2 linked regions of the Homo sapiens genome follow. The protein of the gene in region 1 purifies or fractionates together with the protein of each later gene. This does not show direct contact. Each region holds a gene or a part of one and is shown on either strand. Other genes may lie near its edges.

Evidence for each region. The genes of interacting proteins can lie anywhere in the genome.
Region 2: the proteins of ZNF808 (region 1) and FLG2 purify together in Homo sapiens (co-immunoprecipitation; one large-scale study listed by IntAct). This does not show direct contact.

The regions. Positions count from the first base shown.
Region 1 is NC_000019.10:52,526,052-52,530,827, reverse strand, and holds the start of ZNF808 (zinc finger protein 808), read right to left. Parts: upstream 3,161-4,776; 5' UTR 3,117-3,160; exon of another isoform or gene 2,919-3,116; intron 1-2,918.
Region 2 is NC_000001.11:152,356,943-152,361,942, reverse strand, and holds the start of FLG2 (filaggrin-2), read left to right. Parts: upstream 1-1,936; 5' UTR 1,937-1,987; intron 1,988-3,036; 5' UTR 3,037-3,058; coding exon 3,059-3,196; intron 3,197-4,295; coding exon 4,296-5,000. UniProt on the Homo sapiens protein: Essential for normal cell-cell adhesion in the cornified cell layers. Important for proper integrity and mechanical strength of the stratum corneum of the epidermis.

The DNA of each region.
Region 1 (4,776 bases):
CTAATTTTTGTATTTTTGGTAGAGACGGGGTTTCACCATGTAGGCCAGGTTGGTCTCGAGCTCCTGGCCTTCAGTGATTTGCTCCCAAAGTGCTGGGATTACAGGAATGAGCCACCAGGCCCAACTTTGATGTTCCTTACTTTTTCTTTCTCTCTTTTTTTTTGTCAGATGGAGTCTAGCTCCGTTGCCCAGCCTGGCATGCAGTGATGCAATCTCGGCTCACTGCAACCTCTGCTTCCCGGGTTCAAGTAATTCTCCTGCCTCAGCCTCCTGAGTAGCTGGGATTACAGGCATCTGCCACCATGCCTGGCTAATTTTTGTATTTTTTAGTAGAGATTGAGTTTCACTGTGTCAGCCAGGCTGGTCTTGAACTCCTGACCTCATGATCCACCCACCTCTGTCTCCCAACGTGCTGGGATTACAGGCGTGAGCCACCATGCCTTGATGTCCCTTTTAAAAACTACTATGGGTTGAGAGTGGTGGCTCACGCCAGGAATCCCAGCACTTTGGGAGGCCGAGGCAGCGGGTCACTTGAGGTAGGGAGTTAAAGACCAGCCTGGACCAACATGAAGAAACCTCGTCTCTACTAAAAACACAAAATTAGCCAGGCATGGTGGTGCATGCCTGTACTCCCAACTACTCTGGAGAGTGAGGCAGTAGAATTGTTTGAAGCCAGGGAGCGGAGGTTGTGGTGAGCTGAGATCATGCCATCGCACGCTAGCCTGGGCAAAAAGAACAAAACTCCCTCTCAAAAAAAAGGGGGGGGCTATGTAGGCCAGACGCGGTGGGCCATCCCTGTAATCCCACCTGTAATCCCAGTAATTTGGGAGGCCAAGGCAGGAGGACCCTTTGACCCCAGGGTTTTGAGAACAGCCTGGGAAACATAGTGAAACCACGTTTCTACAAAAAAAAAAAATATATATATATATATATATGTAAACTAGCTGGGCTTGGTGGCTCATGCCTCTGGTCCCAGCTACTCAGAAGGCTGAGGTAGGAGGATCACTTGAGTCCAAGAGGTAGAGGCTACAGTTAGAGGATCACGCCACTGCACTCCAGCCTGTGTGATACAGCCAGACCCTGACTCAAAATATCATTTAATTAATTAAATTAAAAGTATTATGTAATAACAGACAGCGACTTTTTTCCCACTTCTCTACCCCACATCCTCCCAATCCTAGGAAAAGGGAAGACAGTGATTCACAACTGAATAAGTCACTTCCCTCTGGTTGAATAGGGATTCCAAGTGGAACATAACCTCTGATGCCAAGATTTATAGAATGTACATGTTTTATAGACACCAATTTTAAAATTCTCAATCTGTATAATTTAAACAAGTTTTTAGTTATTAGATTATATACAGGGAAGTCAACATGTCACAACTAATCATATCCAATGAACTCATCCACTGATCTAAACCCAGTCTCTCGCCCCATTTTTTCTTTTGAGACAAGATCTCGCTCTGTTGACCAGGCTGCAGTGTAGTGGCATGATCTCAGTTCACTGCAGCCTGGACCTCCTGAGCTCAAGTCATCCTCCTACCTCCACCTCCAGAGCAGCTGGGAGTACAGGTGCACACGATTATGCCCCGTTATTTCCTTTTTTTTTTTTTTGGCAGAGATAGGGGTCTCACTATGTTGCCCAGGCTGGTCTCGAACTCCTAGACTCAAGCAATTCTCTTGCTTCAGTCTCCTAAAGTGTGGAGACTACAGGCGTGAGCCACTGTGCCTAGCCCCCCTTTCTTCATTACTGCGCTTCCCTCCCTAATTCTGTACATATCTCTCATTCTCCCCCTTCTCTCTCTAGCTCTTGTTTTCTTTTCTTTCTCCCTGGGATTCTGCTCTTCATTTTGTACCCCTCTTCTCTTCTGCTGTTTATCCCCCTTCTTCCCTCTATTCCTTCTCTTCCATCTCTTCTGCTCCATCCTCGCAACTTATTTAACCTCTTATTGCTCCTTCTCCCCAATCTTTCAATCGTCCTCAATCTCCATCTATTTCTGCCTCTTCACCCATCTCTGCGCCTCCTCTGCTCTCCCTGTTAAATTCTCTCTTCCCTGATATACTCCCCTGTCCCCACTCTGTGTCACCCCAGATCCCCAGGTGTCCTCCCTGCTGTGTTTCTCCCTCGGTTCTCCTTGACACCAGCACCACTCTGCTCTGTCTGCCCTGGCTCCAAATCCCTCCCTCTCTCCCTCACTCTGATGAGCCTCCCTCTTTGCTGCCACTCTCCCTACCTTGCCGTCCTTCATCTCTGTGTACATCTAGCTTTTCTCTACATTTCTCCAGTTGCTTTTCTCCACCTGCTTTTCTAGGTATTTTGTTGCTTTCTTTTTCCACTTTCACCATATCTTGGCATATCCCTCACCAATCCTCTATTTTGCCATCTGTTATGGGCCTTTCTTATTCTTTCTCTGTCTCAGGTTTTCTACTGCTGTCTGTCTCCTGATCCCTTCGGCCCACACAATCGCAGGAGGGTTTGGAGTAAGACGCCTGCATCCCGGAGGAGCGCGTTTTCCAAGGGCTGGAGCTCGGCAGGCAAGAAGACCCCATGTCACAGGACAGGGCCCTGCGTCCTTCCCAGTGTGGGTTCAATGGAAGCGGTGACTGCGGAGGAGAGACCTGGGGAGCCGCAGGCTCTGGCACGAGTAGGGAGGTGGGAGGAGGGGGGACGGCGCCTTGGGAGAAGGATGGGGTCTGCAAGATCCCAGGACCAGGCAGAGGACGCGGCCTCCCTGGGACTGGGGCTGCGGCGCGACGCTCCAGGGGCCGACGAGGGGTGGCTGGGAGGTGCGCCCCGGGCAAGAATCCACCTCGTGGGTGAAGACTTTAAATAGCGCGAGGAGGGAAGAGTCAGAAGAAGGTTTTGAGCAGAAAAACTACGCAATAGAAAGTGTATACATTGCCCTATAGCAGACAGACCCGGGACGGGACCAGCCTCCAGACGACTTTAAACCCGAAAGGAAGCGACACCCGGCCTCTCACTGGGCTGTCTCAATTTGCTCTGGGCGAAGGAAGACGGGCGAGAATTTCCAGGTCTGTGGGGACCCCACGTCCCAGGGACAGAAGCGGCGGGGACCTGGGAAGCGGAGACTTAATGCAACACAGAGCAAAACTCACCATGGCGACGTGACCTTCACTCCACCCGATCCGCTTCCGGGTTTGCGTTAATCTCCGCGCGCAGGACGGAAGCCAGGCCTGGGCGGGAGGTGGGAGGAGGTGGGCGGGGCCTGGGCGAGGTAGCGGCGGGGCGCGAGGCGCTGAGACCTTGCCCTTTAGAACCGGCAGAGGGCGGGGCCGGGGCGGGGCCGGGGCGGGACTTGCGCGTCTTTCAGCCTCTCTCCTAGCGTCTCTGTTTTTAGGTTGTGGAGGCGAGAGCGCCAGAAAGTCTGAGGCATGATTCCAAAGCCCTGGAATTGTCTGGAACCGGGATGCAAACTAGAATGTGAAATGCAAAGCCCTGCCTGGGCGGCATGTACGATGTCATGGTGACGGCCCACGGAACAGAATAGATGTCCTCTCCCTTTCTATCTCCATTCACTAGGGAGGGAGAGTCCACCCTGAGCTCAGCTTCAGAGACTTCCTTAAAGCCACCGCCAGGGGTGCGGGACGGAGTGCTTAGGCCAGGAAGGAGTGAGGTCACCACCTGCTGCTTAAACACAGCAGAGGCGCGGGGGCGGGAGCCTCAGGTCCCAGCTACTCAGGAAGCAACGGAGAGAATTGCTGAGCCTGGGGTCCCAAGCCAGCCTGGGCGACAAAGTAACACCCACTGCGGCAGGTCTCCCTTCCTAGTCTCTCTCTCTCTCTTTCCCTTTTTTTTTTTTTGGAGACAGAGTCTCACTCCGTCGCCCAGGCTGGAGTGCCGTGGAGTGATCCCAGCTCACTAGAACTTCCGCCTCCTGGTTTCAAGCGATACTCCGGCCTCAGCCTCCCGAGTAGCTGGGACTACAGGCATGCGCCACCATGCCCAGTTAATTTTGTATATTTAGTAGAGACAGGGTTTCACCATGTTAGCCAGGCTGAACTCCCGACCTCAGGTGATCCGCCCACGTCGGCCTCCCAAAGTGCTGGGATTACAGGCGTGAGCCACCGCGCCCGGGCCTTTTCCCTTTTTAAAAAAAAAAAAAAAACTTTTTTAAATAAAATTTTTGATGGTGTGACATAGGGATCCAACATTACTCTTTTCCATGTGGATATCCAGTTAGTTGTCCCAGCACATTTGTGGAAGAGATCTATTACTTTATTATTATTATTATTATTATTACTATTATTGAGACACAGTATTTCTGTTGCCCAGGCTGGAGTGCAGTGGCGAGATCTCAACTCAATGCAGCCTCTGCCTCCTGGGTTCAAGCGATTCTCCTGCCTCAGCCTCGGGAGCAGCTGGCATTACAGGCGCGTGCCACGATGCCCGGTTAATTTTTGTATTTTTCATAGAGACGGGGTATCACTACGGTGACCTGGCCGGTATCGAACTCCTCACTTTAAGTTATTTGCCTGTGTCAGCCTCCCAAAATGCTGGGATTACATGCGTCAGCCAACATGCCTGGCCCAAGAAATATTCTTTACTTTGCTTTTTAAATGTTGACAAAATATAATTGAAAACTAAAAAATATTATCCCAAATGAGAAATCATCTCCACGACGATAACAGAGAAAGAAATAAAAACCATTTTGTTAATAAATAAACCTTAGGACCGGGCATGGGGGCTCACGCTTGTAATCCCAGCACTTTGGGAGGCTGAAGCAGGCGGATCACGAGGTCAGGAGATCGAGGTCAT
Region 2 (5,000 bases), on another chromosome or scaffold:
GACTGAATAATGGAGTTCTGAACTATGGAGGAGTTTCAGAGTTCTCAACTATAATGCTGGAGTGACAGTGCAAAAATGCTTTAAAATTCTGTCTCAGTGTGGAGTCTGGGGCCTGAAAGTCTTTCTGACACAGCAGCCATCTTAACAAAAATGCACTTCCAAAAGATGCATATGATTGAAAATGACCATAGTATCCAACAGCAACCATAACTTTCTGTGTGGTTGTTTTGGTCTAGGATTCCTTGGCTATGTGAGCAATTGACATATTTCAAGGGCCTATTCATTAACATTTTATGAACAGACACTCATTCTTAGTGTTTACCAAGCTCTAGGTGCTGCCTAGATGGTGGAATGAATAAGATATGATGACTGGCCCAAAGCAATGCCCAGATAGGAGTTTATTGACTCCATATATGTAGAATATATATGGTTAAGTGCTAGGCTTTAGCATCGGCTAGCATGTGTATCTGTTCTAGTGCTGCTACTAACTAGCTGCGATTTGTAACAAATGTTTACATTGCTCTATGCTTTTATTACCTTATCTATAAAATGGGGTTATTTTGAGGAATAAATAGATAAGCATGTAAACCTACCATGTATAGAAGATAGTAAGCACTTAGCACTTAATGGTAGCTGCTATCCTCCTCATCATCATCATTATCACCTGGTAGCAAAGTACAGCAGAATTGGCTCTCCATGCTTAAGACTTACAGCTCTCTGATTATTTTTGTTACCCTCAAGTGTATTTGATATACTTTCTGTACATAAGTGAACATTTTCCCAAGGGTCCAGGCCCTAAACATGCCAGACTACCAGTGGATCGCAGAGTGCTGGAAGAAAGCTCACTCTAAATTCACCCTGAACATATCTGAAAACATTATTTTTATATATAGCCAATTACACTTTTCTAGCCTAGAAATGAGCCTTCACAAGGTCAGAGAATGTTTCCTCTCTTCCTAACAGCACTCTGTATGTTACTTTTTTATATTATTTGCGTTTGAGTGGGCCTTACACTCCTAAAATGGTGCATAATTTTTGCATGATAGTTATATATGATAAATACACAGAGGTAAGTTAGTATAATGGTAAACAGCAATTGCAATAAGGTAGATACAGGTTCAACTTCTGGTTTCTCTGCCTACTAGCTATGACCTTGGAGAAGATCCTTATGCTTCCAGAACCTGTCTCTATAAAATGGGATAATAAATACATATCTCGTATGAAGGTTGTGAAGATTAAATGAGGTGATAAGATCTAGTATTTGGTAACATAATATGGTAACTATAGTTAACTATTTATTGTATATTTTTAAATAACTAAAATAGTAGAATTAGAATGTTCCTACTACAAAGAAATGCTTGAGGTGCTGGATACCCCAATTACTGTAATTTGATCATTACACATGGTATGCCCATATCAAAACATCACATGTACCCAACAATTATATACAACTATGTACCCATAACTAAAAGTGCAGATTTTTTAAAGATTGAGATGGTTTGTTTAAAGTATTTAGCACATAGTAAATTCTCAATAAATGTCACTTTTTATTATTACAAAAAAGACATGAATTAGATGAACCTAGTGGCTCAGGTTCATTTTCAATTAAATAAGCATTTATTGTGCACCTTCCAAGTATCTTACACTCTGCTACTTTCTGTGGGTACTAGTTAAAAGAAATGTATAACATGAGTCCTCTAAAACAAAGTCTGTGCTTTTCACATGTATATGACCCTGAAAAAAAAGGTATCTTGCAACCATGTCCTCGTACTGGAAGGTGGGGCTGGTACTAGCCTTTCTGCAATCATCTGTAGATAACAATGTGAAGGAGGAAGGTAAATATGTAGAGGTGGAGTTAGGTTTGATGGAAAATGAATCACCTCATTCACTATAATCACTATAAGCTATATAAGGGTCATTATCCCAATCCATCGTCACCCTGCAAGCTGCATCAGGCTTTATCCTACTTGTTCCTTTGGTGAACCAGGTGAGAGAAAATTCATCCAGCTACATTTATGAATATTTGGTGTTGTCCATAGTAGAAGTCTAGGGATATAAGCTAAGGCAGAGTTCATGTATATTTTGCCTTTCTTTTCTTTTTTGTTTCTTTCTTTCATTTTCTTTTCTTTTTGTTTGCTTATTTGTTTGGTTAGTTTAGTTTATTCTGGGGCCTTTTTGTAGTTAAGTTCATTTTTATGGAGAAGAATAATGCAAGTAAAAGTTCACCTTCCTCTAGGCCATTCCACAGTCTGTTCCGAGTCTTTTTCCATGCCCTCTTTTCTGGGCTGTCCAGCTCAAACTGGGAGGCAGCTGGGTCTGTTGCAGAGTCCCTTCCTTATTCAGTGTTGGTTCCCAGAGCTCCAAGATCTAATTATCCACTAGTTAAACTGCTGCCTGCATTGCTGAGCTCTTCTTCTTGATTAATTAAAGAAAACAGTGTTTGGTCAAGTGCTTGACATTAAGAGAGTTCCTAAGCTCTACTGAGTTCTACTGTCTCATGCCTATGAAACACCAAGCTATTTTGAGCCCCTTTGCCCATTTTTAATTTGCTGAAGGCCTTAAGGGTCCAGTTTAGCTTCTGGTGCCCAGAGGATAAACAGATGTGCATGGTGGAAGGTCTGTCACTTTTGACTCAAGAAAAGCAGTGAAACTAGAAAGAGAGATTGAGGCAATGGTGTCTGGCTGGTTCTGGAAATTTTGGAAGCCTTAGAACAACACCCAGAATGCCAACACACTCAAAGTGTAGAGATACTATGTAGAGACTATACTTACCCATGACAGGAAATATAGAGACTTGAGGTCTATTCTCAGTTGAACCAGTAACATGCCAAGACTTGATCACAGAAAAGTAACTCAAAGTTAACAAAGTTAATTTTCATTGTGTTAAACGGGGTTGTATCATCCCTGGCCCATTCTTACGTTTTGAGATTTAAAAAACAAGAGGTTAAAAAAATCATGCTGGTTATTATTAAAATGAAAATTGCTGATAAAAGGAGAGAATATGAATAATAGGGTTCTTTGTTTTTCTGTGTCCAGGTTCACTTAAACTTGCAAAAAGATGACCGACCTCTTGAGAAGTGTTGTCACCGTAATTGATGTTTTCTACAAATACACCAAGCAAGATGGGGAGTGTGGCACACTGAGCAAGGGTGAACTAAAGGAACTTCTGGAGAAAGAGCTTCATCCAGTTCTGAAGGTGAGAGCCATGTGCCAGAACTGAAGGCTGCTGGAGTCCTGTACAAGCTCTGTTGTATGACCCAGATCAGCTAAAAAGTGCACAGCCCCAGTGAACTCTAAGCAAACTCTATGAGTGGTATTTTGGGGATGCCAGAAAGTCTGTTAAAGCAGCAGATATTTTAAAGAAAGTGAATGTTTCGTCCTCACTTTTCCACCTATGCACTCCTACCTCATAGACTCTCAGACTTTCTCATACACCCAGGCTTTTCCTTAGAAAAAGCAGAAAATAAAATTATACTAGGACACGAATTAATAAATTATCCTATCAAATGGAAAAAAAAGTATAGAAAGGGAAATCATCTACATAGGGAGTTGACAAAATAGCCATGATTAAGAATCAAAAATAAAATGCCAGCATTTTATTCCATCTACTTAAAAAGGACTCAGCTAGGCGCGGTGGCTCATGCCTGTAATCCCAGCACTTTGGGAGGCCGAAGTGGGTGAATCACAAGGTAAGGAGATCAAGACCATCCTGGCTAATACGGTGAAACCCCATCTCTACTAAAAATACAAAAAATTAGCCGGGCGTGGTTGCATGCCCCTGTAGTCCCAGCTACTCGGGAGGCTGAGGCAGGAGAATGGCGTGAACCTGGGAGGCAGAGCTTGCAGTGAGCAGAGATCGCACCACTGCACTCCAGCCTGGGCTACAGAGCAAGACTCCATCTCAAAAAAAAAAAAAAGACTCAGTTATTAACTTCAAAATAATAGATGATAAATTCCAACATGGAAGATATTAACATGTAATAGTTACAATTTATGTAAAACTTAGAAATACCAGTTACTGAACTTAGTTTATTCCACTCCTTCCTGTAGGCCTTACCTAAGCACTTAATCCTTTAGCCTAAATCCTTGAAATGTCTTCTTCTGAGGATCCCAGTAGTCTTTATTTTCTATTAACCCTTAACATTTACTGGGTTCTATTAACCTAAAGTAATCCTTTATTGGACTAAAACTACATCATGTCAAACATCCATAATTTCACAGCGCTATTTAAATGTGTTAGTTGAGTATGCAGGTTAGGCTGACCAGGTCTCCCTTGGTGTGTCACTCATATACAGAACCCAGATGATCCAGACACAGTGGATGTCATCATGCATATGCTGGATCGAGATCATGACAGAAGATTGGACTTTACTGAGTTTCTTTTGATGATATTCAAGCTGACTATGGCCTGCAACAAGGTCCTCAGCAAAGAATACTGCAAAGCTTCAGGGTCAAAGAAGCATAGGCGTGGTCACCGACACCAAGAAGAAGAAAGTGAAACAGAAGAGGATGAAGAGGATACACCAGGACATAAATCAGGTTACAGACATTCAAGTTGGAGTGAGGGAGAGGAGCATGGATATAGTTCTGGGCACTCAAGGGGAACTGTGAAATGTAGACATGGGTCCAACTCCAGGAGGCTAGGAAGACAAGGTAATTTATCCAGCTCTGGGAACCAAGAGGGATCTCAGAAAAGATACCACAGGTCCAGCTGTGGTCATTCATGGAGTGGTGGCAAAGACAGACATGGTTCCAGCTCTGTAGAACTGAGAGAAAGAATAAACAAGTCACACATTAGCCCTTCTAGGGAATCTGGGGAGGAGTATGAATCTGGATCTGGATCAAACAGTTGGGAAAGGAAAGGTCATGGTGGTCTGTCATGTGGATTGGAGACTAGTGGGCATGAATCAAACTCTACTCAGTCAAGAATTAGAGAACAAAAGCTTGGGTCTAGCTGTTCAGGTTCAGGAGACAGTGGGAGGCGAAGTCATGCATGTGGT